Homo sapiens: one gene and its partners. The protein of the gene in region 1 interacts with the protein of each later gene in a biochemical or structural test. Each region holds a gene or a part of one and is shown in the gene's direction. Other genes may lie near its edges.

What was found. Proteins that work in one complex are often made in the same cells at the same time.
Region 2: of the proteins of NLRP3 (region 1) and SYK, one has a biochemical effect on the other in vitro, tested with the Homo sapiens proteins (one study listed by IntAct).
Region 3: of the proteins of NLRP3 (region 1) and CSNK1A1, one has a biochemical effect on the other in vitro, tested with the Homo sapiens proteins (one study listed by BioGRID).

The regions. Positions count from the first base shown.
Region 1 is NC_000001.11:247,426,166-247,433,202, forward strand, and holds part of NLRP3 (NACHT, LRR and PYD domains-containing protein 3), read left to right. Parts: intron 1-3,419; coding exon 3,420-3,590; intron 3,591-7,037. UniProt on the Homo sapiens protein: Sensor component of the NLRP3 inflammasome, which mediates inflammasome activation in response to defects in membrane integrity, leading to secretion of inflammatory cytokines IL1B and IL18 and pyroptosis.
Region 2 is NC_000009.12:90,895,818-90,899,085, forward strand, and holds the end of SYK (tyrosine-protein kinase SYK), read left to right. Parts: 3' UTR 1-2,732; downstream 2,733-3,268. UniProt on the Homo sapiens protein: Non-receptor tyrosine kinase which mediates signal transduction downstream of a variety of transmembrane receptors including classical immunoreceptors like the B-cell receptor (BCR).
Region 3 is NC_000005.10:149,506,404-149,513,440, reverse strand, and holds part of CSNK1A1 (casein kinase I isoform alpha), read left to right. Parts: intron 1-231; coding exon 232-371; intron 372-1,568; coding exon 1,569-1,647; intron 1,648-3,487; coding exon 3,488-3,562; intron 3,563-6,307; coding exon 6,308-6,414; intron 6,415-7,037.

The DNA.
Region 1 (7,037 bases):
ACAGTGGAGAGAGACACAGTTTCCTTGGAAAAAAACATGATGAAGGTAAATCAAGGGAAATAGAGCAGAAATGTGGAGACCCTCTTTCTAGGCCCCCATGTTGCTCTGCACTGGGCATTGCCAAAACCCCGTTTTCGGGTCTGTTCACACACTTGCTGGGTGGTTGGAAGCTAGTGGCCAAGTCTGTGCAATGAAGTGGTTGAGTCACCTGACTTCTGAGTCCCTTTTGGGTTTATCGTTCAGTGCCTCCTGCAGAAGGACCACCCACAGTGGTTGTAGGAAGGTGGCCACCCTGTGATGTGTGAGTTTAGCCTGGATAGAAGACACTTGACGTGGGGCAAAATTAAGGGAAACAGGAGGCTTGGCCCTTCCACAGGCAACAATGAGTTTCAGCTTTCTTGATCCGTTGACATTACCATGACCAGGACCACCTTCCTAGTCATGGTTTGGCCATGAAGGACTGACTGCCCACAGGGCCGCAGTGGTGGTGAAGACCCAGGTCCTGGTCACAGGGACTTGAGGTCTGGCTGTGGGACAGTCCGGAAACAAGTGCAGATGTCGGGGAGGGGGTCATGGGCTCTGACAAGGAAACTTGCAGAGTATCCAAAGCACAAGGGGACGAACCTGTTCACCAGCGGGGCACGGGTGGGTGTCCCCGCTCAGCCAGCTTCCGGAGGATGGGCAGTGAGAGAGTGAGAGAAGGAAAGGGGCAGCCAGGCTGGGGGCTTACGGTGTTGAGAGAGAGGGCAGGTGTGGGAAAGCAGGGTACGGTTTCTACGGCAGCAAACAGTTCCGAGTGACTGGAAAAAAGACAGTTGTCTTCATTCATCAGGTTGCCATAACAAAACACTGCAGGCTGGTTGGCTTATAAGCAAAAGGAAGGTTCACCTTACGGTTCTGGAGGCTGGGAAGTCCATGATCCAGGCTCTGGCAGATCTGGTGTTTGGTGAGGGCCTGTTCCCTGGTCGATGGTGCCTTCTCACTGTGTCCTTACATGGTGAAGAGGCAAGGCAGCTCTCTGGGGTCCCTTTCCTAAGGACAGCAATCCCACTCCTGAGGGCTCCACCCTCATAACTTAACCACACCTCAAAGGCCCCATCGCCTGATACGTCATGTTGAGGGTTAGGATTTCAGCGTATGGATTTTGGGGCACACAAACATTCAGACCATAGAAATGGGAGAAGAAGAGTAAGACAGAGAGAAAAGTAGGCAGAACTACTCATTAAGAGTGAGGTGGAAGGTGGAGAGGGCAGGGAGACCTTATGAAGATCACACATCTGTGAGGAAGGTTTGCACACTCTCACTGAAGCCCCGGTAGGAGGCTCAGCACCCATTTCTCTAGATAGCACCTTCCTTCCTCTGAGGACAGATTCTGACTGGAGCCCTGGTAGGGGGCTCAGCACCCATCCCTCTAGATGGCACCTGCCTTACTCTGAGGACAGACTCTCACTGAAGCCCCGGTAGGAGGCTCAGCACCCATTTCTCTAGATAGCACCTTCCTTCCTCTGAGGACAGACTCTGATTGGAGCCCTGGCAGGGGGCTCAGCACCCATTTCTCTAGATAGCACCTTCCTTCCTCTGAGGACAGACTCTCACTGAAGCCCCGGTAGGAGGCTCAGCACCCATTTCTCTAGATAGCACCTTCCTTCCTCTGAGGACAGACTCTGATTGGAGCCCTGGCAGGGGGCTCAGCACCCATCCCTCTAGATGGCACCTGCCTTACTCTGAGGACAGACTCTCACTGAAGCCCCGGTAGGAGGCTCAGCAACCATTTCTCTAGATAGCACCTTCCTTCCTCTGAGGACAGACTCTGATTGGAGCCCTGGCAGGGGGCTCAGCACCCATTTCTCTAGATAGCACCTTCCTTCCTCTGAGGACAGACTCTCACTGAAGCCCCGGTAGGAGGCTCAGCACCCATTTCTCTAGATAGCACCTTCCTTCCTCAGGACAGACTCTGACTGGAACCCTGGTAGGGGGCTCAGCACCCATCCCTCTAGATGGCACCTGCCTTACTCTGAGGACAGACTCTGACGGGAGCCCTGGTAGGGGGCTCAGCACCCATCCCTCTAGATGGCACCTGCCTTACTCTGAGGACAGACTCTGACTGGAGCCCTGGTAGGGGGCTCAGCACCCATCTTTCTAGATGGCAGCTGCCTTACTCTGAGGGCAGGAGCTTGCTTTGTATGTTCCAGTCCCTTCTGAGAACCAGAAGCCTGAGCATCTATTAGAAATGCAGGATTGTGGACCCAATCTTAGACCTAGAGAGCTAGACTTTGCATTTGAATGAGAGCTACAGGTGATTCAAAGGTGACTGCATGTGTGGGTGCAGTGGCTCTTGCCTGTAATCCTAGGTTTTGGGAGGCCAAGATGGGGGGATTGCTTGAAGCCAGGAATTCAAGTCCTACCTGAGCAGCAAAGTGAGAGCACCTCTCTACAGAAAAACAAAAGCAAAAATGTGACTGCATGTTGGAGCCACCTGGCTTTTTTTAAATAAAAAAGATCCATATAGCTGGACACAGTGACTCGTGCCTGTAACCTCAGCTACTCGGGAGGCTGAGGCAAGAGGATTGCTTGAGCCCAGGAGTTTGAGGCTGCAGTGAGCTATGATCATGGCACTGCATTCCAGCTTGGGTTTCATCTGAAAAAAAATTTAAAAAATTCATCTAGTTCCACCTCAGAGCTTCTGATTTTATTTCCATGGATGTGGCCTGGGCTTGCGATTTTCTTTTTCTTTTTTTTTTTTTTGAGATGAAGTCTTGCTCTGTTGCCCAGGCTGGAGTGCTGTGGCATGATCTTGGCTCACTGCAACTTCCACCTCCCAGGTTCAAGTGATTCTCCTGCCTCAGCCTCCCTAATAGCTGGGATGACAGGCTCGTGCCACCACACCCAATTAATTTTTGTATTTTTAGTAGAGAGAGGGTTTCACCATGTTGGCCAGGCTGATCTTGAACTCCTGACCTCAGGTGATCTGCCCGCCTCGGCCTCCCAAAGTGCTGGGATTACAGGTGTGAGCCACCATGCCCAGCCTGGCCTGAGGATTTTTGTGAGCACTCCTGATGCTGTTGTGTAGCCAGGAGTGAGGACTGCCCTCTGATCACCCAGCACAGAACGTTCAGGGCCATGTTGGGACAGTGGACTGGTAAGGGCGAGAGGAGGACACTGGGGAGCAGGCTGTAGGGTGCCACAGTCCGCCACAGTCACAGGCTCATGCTCTCCGTCCGAGAGGAGGCAGAACTGCTTTTACCAAGGCTCATCCAGCCCTCTTCATTTCTCTGGGAACAATTTTTGGTTTCGTGACCCATTTCTTAATCCCCGGAAGGCATTTCTCTGAACTGGTGCCAGGCACCCCGGCCCCCAGCTCCAGTTAGTTATTATTCGAGGCTGATTTCTTTTCTGTCTGTCTTCCTTCTAATTCCTAGATTGGTGAACAGCCACCTCACTTCCAGTTTTTGCCGGGGCCTCTTTTCAGTTCTGAGCACCAGCCAGAGTCTAACTGAATTGGACCTCAGTGACAATTCTCTGGGGGACCCAGGGATGAGAGTGTTGTGTGAAACGCTCCAGCATCCTGGCTGTAACATTCGGAGATTGTGGTGAGTCCCCGTGCATGTGATCTGTGTGAGTGCAAGTTCATATGAGAGAGAGAGAGAGAAACAGACTGGAGAAAGATCTTCAGGACCAGGTTGCTGGTGTGGTTTCTTTCTTTTCTTTTTCTTTTTTTCTTTTTTTGAGGCAGAGTTTTGCTCTTATTGCCCAGGCTGGAGTGCAATGCCGTGACCTCGGCTCACTGCAATCTCTGCCTCCTGGGTTCAAGTGATTCTCCTGCCTCAGCCTCCTGAGTAGCTGGGATTACAGGCACCCACCACCATACCCAGCTAATTTTTTGTATTTTTAGTAGAGATGGGGTTTCATCATGTTGTCCAGGCTAGTCTCGAAGTCCTGACCTCAGGTGATCCGCCCGCCTCGGCCTCCCAAAATGCTGGGATTACAGGCATGAGCCACCGCACCCGGCCGGTGGTGTGGTTTCTGCTGTAACAAAGTGCCACAGACTGAATGGCTTCAACAACAAAAATTCATTTTCTTGCAGTTCTGAGGCCGAAAGTCTAAGATCAAGGTGTCAGCAGGGTTGGTTTCTTCTGAGGCCGCCCTCCTTGGTTTGTAGATGCCCCCTTCTCCCTGTGTACTGATGCCATCTTGCCTTGGGGGGAAGAGTGGCCTAGTCTCCTCTTCTTACAGGGACAGCAGTCCTGATGGATTAGGCACAGTCAGGCATGACTACACAAGACCTAATGTTAATCTAGTCACTCCTTTAAAGACCCCATTTCCCAAAACAGCCACATTATGAGGTCTTGAGGATTAGGGCTTCAACATGTAAATTTTTGGGGGGGCACAGTTCAGCCCAGAACAAGTGAGAAGGTAGAATGGGTTGGAGGCCAGCTGGGGAAGTTTTGTGTGGGGAAGAATGAATGAGGAACTAAAAAAAAAGTCATTTCTTGAAACAACCATGATGCTCGATATATTCCATTTCCTCATGGGCCATGTTCATAGATGAGAGTTGGAGAATTTGCCATTTACAACAATGGCAACCTCACCTAAAAACTATGAAAATACTTTTTTTTTTTTTCTTTGAGACAGGACCTCTCTCTGTCACCCAGGCTGGAGTGTGTGATCACAGCTTACTGCAGCCTCGACCTCCCAGGCTCAAGCAATCCTCCCACCTCAGCTCCCCCGAGTAGCTGGGACTACAGGCATGCACCACCATGCTGGCTAATTTTTGTATTTTTTTTGTAGAGATGTGGTCTCATCACGTTGCCCAGCCTGGTCAGAATGCTTTGTATGGGTTGAAATGTCACAGGGAATCTCCTGTGACTTTATTAATAATGTGCTTGCTCACACCTGTAGTCCCAGCTACTCGGGAGGCTGAGGCAGGAGAACTGTGTGTACCCGGGAGGCGGAGATGGCAGTGAGCCGAGATCGTGCCATTGCACTCCAGCCTGGGTGACAGAGCGAGATTCCATTTCAAAATAATAATAATAATAATAATAATAAAAAATGTGCTTGCTTTCTCCCACACCATGAATCAGATTCACACGCCCCACCGCGCTGGTGCCTGGGCCGCCTCACTAGCTCTGTTTCATTCCCTGCTCTGTGGACGCATGCAGGCGTCTGCATTTTTGAGGAGCTGCACAGCAAGTGTTAAAGTCCGCCACTCTAGGACATTTTGCTACCTCCCTCTCCGGCTCAACACACTCACCTTGTCACCAGTCTTATCAATTTTTCCTCCTACCCGAGCTGTTTTCCACTTTTCCTCGTCCTCACCCCACCAGCCCAGGTCCAGCAACTGTCACCACTTGCCTGGACACGCAGTGACCTCCTAGACCATCAGCTCCCCGGGGATGGGGTTTGCGTTTGTTTGTCTTGCTGTCATCTTTGCCACGCCTGGACAGACATCTTAGTACCCATCAGTGGTCAAAAGCACGCACTGAATGAATGTTGGCTCTTTGGTCTCCCTGTGTCTGCCTTTTTCCCTCACCCGACCATTCTCTGCACAAAAGTAAGATGGTCCTTTAGAAAATTCTGATTCGATTGTGCTGTTCGGTGGCTTAAATGCTTTCTGTCTGCTCTGCTCTTTATTTTTTACTTTATGTATTTATTTTTGTAGATGTAGGGGGCGCAAGAGCAGCTTTGTTTCATGGATATGTTACTGCACAGTGGTAGTGTCTGGGCTTTTACTGTAACTACCCCTTTTTTTTTGAGATGGACTCTCGCCGTGTTGCCCAGGCTGGAGTACAGTGGAGTGATCTCGGCTCACTGCAACATCCACCTCCTGGGTTCAAGCAATTCTTCGAGTAGTTGGGATTACAGGCATGGGCCACCACGCCCAGCTGATTTTTGTATTTTTAGTAGGGACAAGGTTTCACCGTATTGGCTAGGCTGGTCTCAAACTCCTGACCTCGTGATCCACCCGCCTCGGCCTCCCAAAGTGCTGGGATTACAGGCGTGAGCCACCGTGCCCGGCCTTAGTGTAACTCTTACCCAAATAGTGAACATTGTACCCAATAAATAATTTTCCAGCCCTCACCTGGCTCCCACCCTCCCACCCTTCTGAGGCTCTAGTGTCTATCATTCCATGCTCTATGGATGTTACCCTTTGTTTAGCTCCCACTTGTAAGTGAGAACGTGTGGTATTTGACTCTGTTTCTGAGTTGTTTCACTTAAGGTAATGGCCTCCAGTTCCATCTGTGTGGCTTCAAAGATGTGACTTCATTCTTTTCTATGGCTGAGCAGTATTCCATTATGTATATAGATCACACTCTTCATCTTTGCTCTTTTGGTAAATTTCAAATCGTAGTGCCATGGAGACTGGTTGTTTGGGACATTTAACCTTATTTCTCCAACTTCATGCCCAAATTCTCTCCCCACTGCCATTGCCCCTGTATGATTCTGGAGAGGCAGACACAAACAGGGAAGGGTAGGGGACAGTGAGATGCTTCGCAGAGAAGTAGAGATCCATTTGTCCATTTGCTTGAAGTTGGTGTAAGGATAGGGACAGAAAGGAAGGTGGTCTAACAGGCTCCAGGACCTATGAACTATTGCCCTGGAAAGAAGCTAGAATGTTGTTCTTGCCCCCATGACAGGGATAAAGTATAGTTTTTGTTGCTGGTGGTGGTGGTGACGGTGGTAGTGATGTGCGTGTGTGTTTGTGTGCATGTGTGTGACGGGGAAACTAATCAAGAATCAGAGCTGCAGCGGGATGTGGAATCCCAGCACTTTGAGAGGCTGAGGTGGGCAGATCACCTGAGCCCAGGAGTTCAAAACCAGCCTGAGCAAGCTGGTGAGACCTTGTCTTTAGAAGATAATAATAATAATAAAAATAAAATATAAATAAAATAAAATGGCTAAGCATGGTAGCACATGCCTGTATTTGCAGCCACTTGGGAGGCTGAGGCAGGTGGATCCCTTGAGCCCAGGAGTTCGAGGTGGCAGTGAGCTATGATCTCGCCAGTGCACTCCAGCCTGTGCAACAAAGTGAGACCCTG
Region 2 (3,268 bases), on another chromosome or scaffold:
GGGCTAGCTGGATTTGTTTGTTTTCTTGTCTGTGTGATTTTCATACAGGTTATTTTTACGATCTGTTTCCAAATCCCTTTCATGTCTTTCCACTTCTCTGGGTCCCGGGGTGCATTTGTTACTCATCGGGCCCAGGGACATTGCAGAGTGGCCTAGAGCACTCTCACCCCAAGCGGCCTTTTCCAAATGCCCAAGGATGCCTTAGCATGTGACTCCTGAAGGGAAGGCAAAGGCAGAGGAATTTGGCTGCTTCTACGGCCATGAGACTGATCCCTGGCCACTGAAAAGCTTTCCTGACAATAAAAATGTTTTGAGGCTTTAAAAAGAAAATCAAGTTTGACCAGTGCAGTTTCTAAGCATGTAGCCAGTTAAGGAAAGAAAGAAAGAAAAAAAAAAAAGGCCTGGATACTGCTTTTGCTGTCTCTGTTATGAGATGGAAGACTTACATGTTTGTGATAAAAGGGGACCATGAGAATGAATTGGCTTGGCTTACTTTCCCCCTGAAATCCTCTCTCCTGCAGACTGTCTTGAAGACCTGGTGACTGGTAAATAAAGCCCTGCATGGAGGCTGCACAGCAGGGGCAAGAGGCCCATCCCCCAGCATCTCACTGAGGACAGCTTCAGGCTGCCTTCCTCTGAACGTGGTCCACACCTTCCTCTCCTCCACAGAGAGGGTGCCGCCAGAATCCCCTGTCGCTTTCTGTGTCTGCAATGGGGGGCAGCACAGGGATCAAAGCCATCTAAAGAGTTTCCAAAGAAAGTATTAATTCAGAACAAGCCAAAGACCCTGAGCCTCACCACAAACAGGCCTTTTGGAGTGTGAATTTGAGTTGAAGATACAAGATCGGAGAATGATTTTCTGGTCTTAACTAATCCTCATCTTCATGTTTGATCTTTAAGAAGTCATCACCCATTGATTTCAGTTTTGCTGTACCTCTTGAAAGTTAAAGAGACATCTCAGCACTTTAGGAGGCCGAGGCGGGTGGATCACTTGAGGTAAGGAGTTTGAGACTAGCCTGGCCAATATGGTAAAACCCCATCTCTACTAAAAATACAAAAATTAGCCGGGCATGGTGGCATGTGTCTGTAGTCCCAGCTACTCGGGAGGCTGAGGCAGGAGAATCGCTTGAACCCAGGAAACGGAGGTCGCAGTGAGCCAAGATCATGCCACTGCACTCCAGCTTGGGCATCACAGCGAGACTCTGTCAAAACAAACAAACAAAAAAACAACTTAAAGAGGTAATTTAGCCATCATTCTTATGCCAGCAGATATAAATAAACTTGGACCCATCTGGTCTTCAGCTAAACCTGAGACATTTTAAAGTGCATGGACAGCCATGGACAGCAGGCCCTCCTCTAACAGGGGATGCAAGGCATGGAGAAAGACAATCAGTACCCAAGCTCAGCCACAGAAGACAGGAGTCACTCATATAACTTGTGTTTAGAAGTTTTTGGTAGCCACGCACACTTTCTGAAATCACACTATCTGGTGGTTTAATCATATTTTTAAAGACAGAATCCCTGAGTGCTGAGCAGATTCTCAAAACACATTTAGAATCCCTGAAATTAGAAAGATCAATGACAAAATATCTGTCAGCCAGGCCACAAACAGGTGTAAAATTATGAAAGGAGTGGTTGGATGTGCCAAGTTTGGTAAAGTGGTGACTGCATCTGAGAAAGAGGCTGTGAGGCTGAACTCTTGGTGGCTTCCTTCTGTAACTTCCAGAGGGAGTCTTCAACACAGGCCCCGTGCTCGTAGGAATACGGTAGCACCTATGTAGGAAGTGCGTGGAGTTTTCTGTCTTCTTTCTGTGTGATTTTTGGCCTTTTTATCAGCACTTCTCCCCTCCCAGGAGCCTGGGGATGCCAAACATCCAGAATGTGATGGGACAAGATGGGGGCAGGGGCCTCACCTCCCTGCAGAGGTCCGGCCAGGTCTCCTTGTCCCTGGACAATCTCCTGAGCCTCTCTGCTTGGTGGAGCAGGCACCTGTGTGCAGAATTCCCACTGTGGCCAGCACGAGGAAGTCTTTTCTAGTGAAAATGTGTCTTGTGGTCAGGAATAATTATCCTTTCCCCTGTAGCCACCAAGGAGGGCAAATAGAGAAAGGTAACCTAATTGAAGGATTGGTCATGTGAAAAGGGCTACATTTGGGAAGCTGGGAAAGGCCTCCAGGCTTCTAGAGCAGCTAGCTTGGGCTGGATTCTCATACCCAGGCTGCCCCTTGGATTGTTCTACCCAAGCTTTTCCCTGGGGTCTGGGCTCACTCCATAAGGTAAGGTGCCTTTTACCTTATGGTCCTTCTTTAGCAGGTAACAAAGGAGCATCAGGGGCAGGCTGCCCTGGTGGCATCACACTGGCTAGTGAGGCCGTGAATATCTTGTCCCCCAGCAGGGCCGACAGTTTCTATCACAGAAAACAGTGTGTTCAGTGGTGAAAATCGTTGCATGCATGTTTTCATCTGAGCGTGTCCTTCTCCCATACTCCCTATCAGCCAGCCCTGCCTGTAGCTGCTGTATGGTGATTGCACTTGGACATCAGTCCAATGACTGCAAGTCGGCCTGGATTTTCACTTGCAGAGGCTACAGCTGCATTGTCAGGTCTCCCAGCCCTGCAGAGAGCTCCCTCCACTGGTTAGCAGTGTGTTGTGTTTTCCATTCATTTCAGAAGAGCTACATTGTGTCACTGGACATTTTTAAAAACTGTGATTTTTAATAAAAATTTAAAATTTGCTTTGTGATGATTTTCATGGAAGTTATTAGGATGTGGTAAGTCACACTGTCAAATAGTGTCAAGCAGCATTGTCAAAGGGGTAGCTAAATGTTTTCTAAAACATTAAGTCCCTGCCATGTCCCAAAAAAGTGAATGTGTTGGCCGGGTGCAGTGGCTCATGCCTGTAATCCCAGCAGTTTGGGAGCCCAAGGCAGGAGGATCTCTTGAGCCCAGAGTTTGAGACCAGCCTGGACAACATAGTAAGACTTTAGCTCTGCAGAAATCAAAACATTAGCCGGGTGTGGTGGTATGCACCTGTAGTCCCAGCTACTTGGGAGGCTGGGGCAGGAAGATTGCTTGAGCCTGGGAGGTCGAGGCTGAAATGAGCTGTGATGGCACCACTGCACTCCCAGCTGGGTGACAGAGCAAGATCCTATCTCAAAAAAAAAAGTGGATGTGCACAGGTCAAAGTTGACTGTGAGATTCCACCACACAGAACGGCGGGGAGGCCCATCAGGGAGGGCCCTGTCCTGCCCTGCCTCTATCTTTTATTCAT
Region 3 (7,037 bases), on another chromosome or scaffold:
CAAACGACAAGGATAAACTACTAGACTTTTTTTTTTTAACTTGATTTATTGATGAAGACTAGTAAAAGCTTATGGGGGGGTGTTAAGTCTGTTCATTATCTGTTCTATTAATACTTAGGATACTTTATTTTGATATATTTGAATGCATAGAATAGATACCATTTAATGAATAAGACGCAGTTTAATTGAACAAGGTTGGAAACCTAATGTTTCTGTATTTCTCTTTTAAAGTTATTCCTTATTGATTTTGGTTTGGCCAAAAAGTACAGAGACAACAGGACAAGGCAACACATACCATACAGAGAAGATAAAAACCTCACTGGCACTGCCCGATATGCTAGCATCAATGCACATCTTGGTATTGAGCAGAGGTAAGTTCGAAAATGGAATGTGCTTATCATAGCCATAGCAGAAGCCATCAATGGGTTTTTGAAATATTTTAGTTTCTTACAATGTCTAAGGATGTTTCTTGGCTGAGGATTTGAAGGATGCTTATTAATCATTTTACCTGCTGCTTTAACCAGTGTAGAGAAGACCGTTAAATGAGGTCTTCTGGATTTTTTGTTGTTGTTGAAGGTTGTCTCTTGGGGGGAAAATACTGCGTGATAGAAAGTTAGAAGCATAAGTGCAATGTTGACGTTTCTTTTTGCAGCTGAAGATAGTACATATATTTTTAGAGCTATTTGGGGCTTTTTATACTTTAGTAATTCACGCTGAGTTTGGGAAGAATGCATTATTTATTTTTAAAAGGAAAATGTTATCAGTGTCCTAATAAACCAAAAGTGGGTTGATGGACCATCTCCTGTTATACTTCACTCAAATATATAAATTAATAGGATCTAGTTTAAAGTAAAAAAAGTAACAGTCTCTGCTCTCTTCCTATTTCTTCACATGAGTTCTAGAGTTTCGAGTTCCTTTCATCTTTTACAGTCACTTTTTGCTCCTTAAAACTAGCATAGAAGTAATAAGTAGAAAAAACAATGATATGCCTCCAGGTTAAAGAACCTCATACCAAGAATTTCAGGCTTAAGAAATATCCATGAATATCTGAATGATCTAGGTTAAACTGTAATGTCACTTTTTCTGTACGCCAAGGCATTACCTATCCTTAAATATATATATATCTAAATATATATTTGTATGTATGTGTATATAGATATGTATGCATGAATACATTCATATAGATGTTCAATTAGTTTTAAGTTGTAACTCCTTTTCAGTACTTCTGAAGTTTTTTTTTAATGAGTTTCTGCAAAACATAGAAATGTCATCCTGCTTGGTTCATTAAGCTCATTTAGAGGGTTGTTTAGCCAAATCGTTTCTGTTCTTTTAAAATTAAATTGTAAGACAGTTGTTTGTCAGATTTTGGATTCCATGGAAAAAGTTTTGTTTAGAGGTAGGTAACACATGAACTTTTTAAAATCACCTTAAATAAGTAGCTTCTTGCGTAAGACACCAAATAGTGTTCCCTCCTCATTTGGGAACATTTCTTCTGGGTACTTGACTTTCTTTCATATGTTTTTTCATAATAATAGTTCCAGTTTATAAAATTACGTTCTCTTTTCTAGTCGCCGAGATGACATGGAATCATTAGGATATGTTTTGATGTATTTTAATAGAACCAGCCTGCCATGGCAAGGGCTAAAGGTAAACCAGACTCACATTATCAGATTTTTCTCTCTCTTTTTTAGAATAAAAATATATATTGGAGAAGATAAGATTTAAGGTCCCTTCTAAGTCTGAGATTTTTCTGAGATATAAAGAATTAACCTTAATTTACTTTTTACCTTTTATCTGGGAAAATGAAACCAGATCATTTTAGTAAGAACTTAGTTCAGCTGAAGAACAGTGTCCTCTAAGAGACAGTAAGCTGGTACCCACTGGTAGCCACTAGCTCTATCTAGATGGAAGTGGGCATGGACTAAGAAAGGTGGAGACTTTCTCATTTTGATGTGTTGCCATTATGTTGAAAATGTATGTTTTTATGTACAGCAAGACCTGTTTATCCAGCAATACATGTCCTAACATTTTGTTTCTATTAGCTAGGAGTTTACTGTTACTTTTGTGAGTGTATGTTAATGATAAATCACCGTATCCTAATTTTGGGTGGGGGTGGGGGCATGGGGAATGGTCTTGCTCTGTTGCCCAAGCCGGAATGCCTGGCTCACTGCAGCCTGAACCTCCTGGGCTCAAGCAGTCCTCCTATCTCAGCCTCCTACCTGTAGCTGGGACTACAGGAACATGCCACCATGCCCAGCTAATTTTTAAATTATTTTTTGTAGAGACAGTGCCTCACTGTGTTGCCCAGACTGGTCTCAAACTCTTGGGCTCAAGTGATTCTCCTGCTTCAGCATCCCAAAGAACTGGGATTACAGGTGTGAGTCACCACTGTTGGTGTGTCCTAAATTTTAATGGCTATTTTGGTACCTTACCAGTTCTTTGAAGGAATACCTGTATTTATTGAGTGGCTGTGAGCTAGTTGTAGTGCTCAGTCCTTGGGTGGGTAGCTTTATCTAATATGAGTATTTTTAGTTTAGAAAAATATTGTGACTTATACAGTTAACTCCATTTATTAATGTCACTAATTGATGAACAAATTTTTTTGTATTAATCTGATGCCTTTGCCCTTGTGTTGAACATGGGTTAAGAAAATGCTTTTCAGGCTGAGCATGGTGGCTCATGCCTATAATCTTCAACACTTTGGGAGGCCCAGCCAGGCGGATCACTTGAGCCCAGGAGTTCAAGACCAGCCTGGTCAGTATGGCAAGACCTCACCTCTACTTTAAAAAAAAAAAATAGCAGGGTGTAGTGTCACATGCCTGTAGCCCCAATTACTCAGGAGGCTGAGCCGGGAGGATTGCTTTGAGCCCAGGAGTTCGAGGCTACAGCGAGCTATAATCGAGCCACTGCACTCCAGCCTGGGCAACCGAGGGAGACCTTGTCTCAAAAAAACAAACAAACAAACAAAAAAACAAAGAAAAGGAAAAAGGAAAGAAAATGCTTTTCAGCTGGGTATGATGATGCACACCTGTAGTCCCAGCTACTTGATAGGCTGAATCAGGAGGATTGCTTGAGGCCAGGAGTTGGAGGCCACAGGGAATTACTGCTGAGCCTGTGAATGGCTACTGCACTCCAGCCTGGGCAACATAGTGAGACCCCATCTCCTTAAAAAAATATATAGAAAGAAAGAAAATGCTTTTCAATTTTGGCCCCAGCCATTTTTACTTAAATCTAATATCCATATATTCCTATTAGACTCACCCTTTCCCTATAGCTAAAATTAAATTCTTAGAGAAGAAACTTACATCAGAAGTTAACAGTTTGGGAAAAATTTTTTTTAGATGTATTATACTTTGATTTTTTAAATTCTGGGTTAAAATTTCTCTTGAATCTCACAGGTATATGTTTATATGTCTAGTGCGTTAAACTACCATGGTTCTTCTCAGTAGCACTGAGTATATCTTTTTTATTTTATTCTTTTCCACAGGCTGCAACAAAGAAACAAAAATATGAAAAGATTAGTGAAAAGAAGATGTCCACGCCTGTTGAAGTTTTATGTAAGGTAAGTATGCATGATGAATATTAAAAAAATATAAATGAAGCCAGGCACAATGGCTCACACCTGTAATCCCAGCACTTTGGGAGGCCAAGGCAGTAGGTCACATGAGCCCAGGAGTTCAAGACCAGCCTGGGCAACATAGGGAAACCCCATTTCTACCTTAATAGATAAATGATCCGGCTGGGCACAGTGGCTCAAGCCTGCAATCCCAGCACTTTAGAAGGCCGAGGTGGGCGGATCACTTGAGCCCAGAAGTTCCACAAGACCAGCCTGGGCAACATGGTGAAATACCTTATCTACCAAAAATACAAAAATTAGCTGGGTGCAGTGATACACGTCTGTGGTCCCAGCTACTCAGGAGCCTGAGGCAGGAGGATCACTTGAGCCCGGGAGGCTCCAATTGCAGTGGTGAATCTTGGCTGTCTTGCAAGGATCTGAGATTGTGCCACTGCACTCCAGCCTAGGTAACAGAGTAAGACTCTGTCTCAAATGAGTGAATGAATGAATGATCCAGGAAGAAAAAGGAACATTTTATTTGCCAGCTCTGGAACTTGTAACATTGAATTAGGTAGCTATTCACCATTTTAAATTTACATTTTTATTATTCTAAATATCTTTAACAAGGACTTTTAACATAGGGGTCTTTTTAAATAAGTGTTTTGCTAGGCACAGTGGCTCACAGTTGAGGAGCCACTTGGTAGGCTGAAGGAGGGTGGATCGCTTGAGCCCGGGAGTTCCAGACCAGTCTAGGCAACATGGTGAAACCCCATCGCTACAAAAAATGCAAAAATTAGCCTGGCATGGTGACGCATGCCTGTAATCTCAGCTTCTTGGGGATGCTGGGGCAGGATGCTTGAGCCCAGGAGGTCGAGGCTGCAGTGAGCCAAGATTGCACCACTGCAGTCCAGCTTGGGTGACAGAGTGAGACCCTGTCTCAACAACAACAAAAATAAGTAAAATAATAAAAAATAAGTTAAATAAACGTTTTAAGTAAGTAAAATAAGTGTTTTATGTTTCTGGTTTGTTAGGGCTCTCTAATCTGTTGAAAACTAGGGGTAAATAAACAGGGCAGGTAAACATTTTCAATAGAACCTCATTAATCTATAAGAAAAAGTAAGAAATATTCTCCTTACCCTAAACTAGTGCTGGAAAAGAAAGGTTATCAACAATTAGTACATTAAGGAACAGGGAAACATGCAGACAGATTGGAGCAATCCAAAATAGCAGCTGTCCAACAATACAGGAATACAGAAGACAGTTTGAATCACACTCATTTTTTCTGAAATTTTCAACTTCATAGAAAGGCAATTGAGTTTAGAATAGAGAGGTATTTGTGTCATGATGAATAACCATGATCTCATCCATAAAAAGAAGGCCATATGGTCTTTCAGACAAGAAAGAATTGTATACCTGAAATTAAGTACAAAGCAGTATACAAATAAATAGTTGAGGGAAGAAATCAGTGAGAGTTAAAATAGTAATTATAAAGTGGTGAGATTGTTTTCAGTCTCATTGTCATACTGTTTACCATTAACACGGGCCATAAATGTATATAAATGTTGAGTTTTAGAAAGATGTATAATATGTATTATTTTACATCTTTTAACATATGTATATGTTTCAAGTGGTCACCCAATTTATATCGGTGCAATCAATAAAAAATGTTGCAAGCATTTCCATTCTATCCTTCCTAACTCCAGGACATGAGAAATTTCTCATAAGGTTGTAGAAAGAGATTGTAACTTTAACTCTACAATCATAAGGTTGTAGAAAGAGACTGCCTCCTTTAACTTTACCACTCTCCACATTGGCATTTACTCTAGGAGAGGAGATATAGAGGTTTGTGCTCTTTTAATATTTTGTATTTCCACATTGCTGATTGGGGAAATCCTTTTGGTGACTGATACCTAGAGCCTTGAAAATGTTTATACATTGTTGAGAATCTTTCCTAAGGAGCTAAATGGAAAAATTCTATGCCCACAGATGTACTTAGCAGTATTATTAATAATAGAGAAAAATTAGAATACATCCAAATGTTCAATTATAAAGAACAAGTTAATGATGTATATACTAGGTAGAATATCATGCAACCATTTAGAAACTTCTGAAGGCTGGGCATGGTGGCTCACACCTGTAATCCCAGCACTGTGGGAGACCAAGGAGGCCAAGGGGGGCAGATCTCTTGAGCTCGGGAATTTGAGACCATCCTTGGCAATCTGACAAAACCCTGTCTCTACTAAAAAATACAAAAAATTAGCTGGGCGTGGTAGCTCGTGTCTGTAGTCCCAGCTACTCAGGAAGCTGAGGTTGGAGGATCGCTTGAAGCCTGGGAGGTGGAGGTTGCAGTAAGCTGAGATTACACTACTGCACTCCAGCCTGGGAGACAGATTGAGACCCTGTCTTTAAAAAAAAAAAAAGTTCACGAAGAGGCGCGACTTTGATAAAATGACAGGTTTTAACAAGTGGGCTATGTAAGTTATTTAAGAACATAGTACTGTATAGGAAAAGCACTATATGGGAAGAACATATGTATTTCTTCTACTAATATTGTACATAATAGGGTAGGTAGGGTCATGAAATTTTATTTAAATTTATGAGGAGACCAAGCCATCATTTTAGCTCTCATATCTTCCTATGAAATGGTAAAATATCCCGCCCAAAAATATCTTTTTGCTTATACTTAAATGCATTTATTTTTCTATCTTGAAATGTTTGTTTTTAACTTTGTTTTAACCCTTGAACCTATAGGGGTTTCCTGCAGAATTTGCGATGTACTTAAACTATTGTCGTGGGCTACGCTTTGAGGAAGCCCCAGATTACATGTATCTGAGGCAGCTATTCCGCATTCTTTTCAGGTCAGTTTTTAAGGTATTTTAAGATTATAAACTCTGTGAGGGAAATTGGTTAAATTTACCTAACAAATTCATTCTGATAAATACTAAAGTAAAGCAGATCTAGCTAACATGAATAAAAGGTTTCAGAAACTGATTTATTTGGGACTAATTTGGCATTTTTCTATTTGTAGTGTAAATAGGTGATTTTAGTTTGGAGTGGATAGAGAGTTGAATCATACTCAAAGTAGAATGTAACTTTTCCAGAATAGTTATAATTCATATTAGATATAAGTGGCTGTCAGTGCCTTCTGGAACTCTCCAACTTTGTACAGTACCAAATAAAAAGCAATTAAAATATCACATAGTCATGGAGTCTGATCAAGTGGTAGCAGTCCTAAACTAGGGTAGGGTTCCTTAGGCACAACCCAGAACTGGTCTTGAAAAAGGGGGGGGAATAGATTACATGTGGCTCAAACTCTTAGTTGGAAGAGAGTAAGAATTGAGGTAATCCGCCCAGGTACGGTGGCTCACGCCTGTAATCCCAGCACTTTGGGAGGCCGAGGCGGGCAGATCGCTTGAGGTCAGGAGTTAGAGACCAGCCTGCCCGACATGGTGAAGCCCCATCTTTACTAAAAATACAAAAA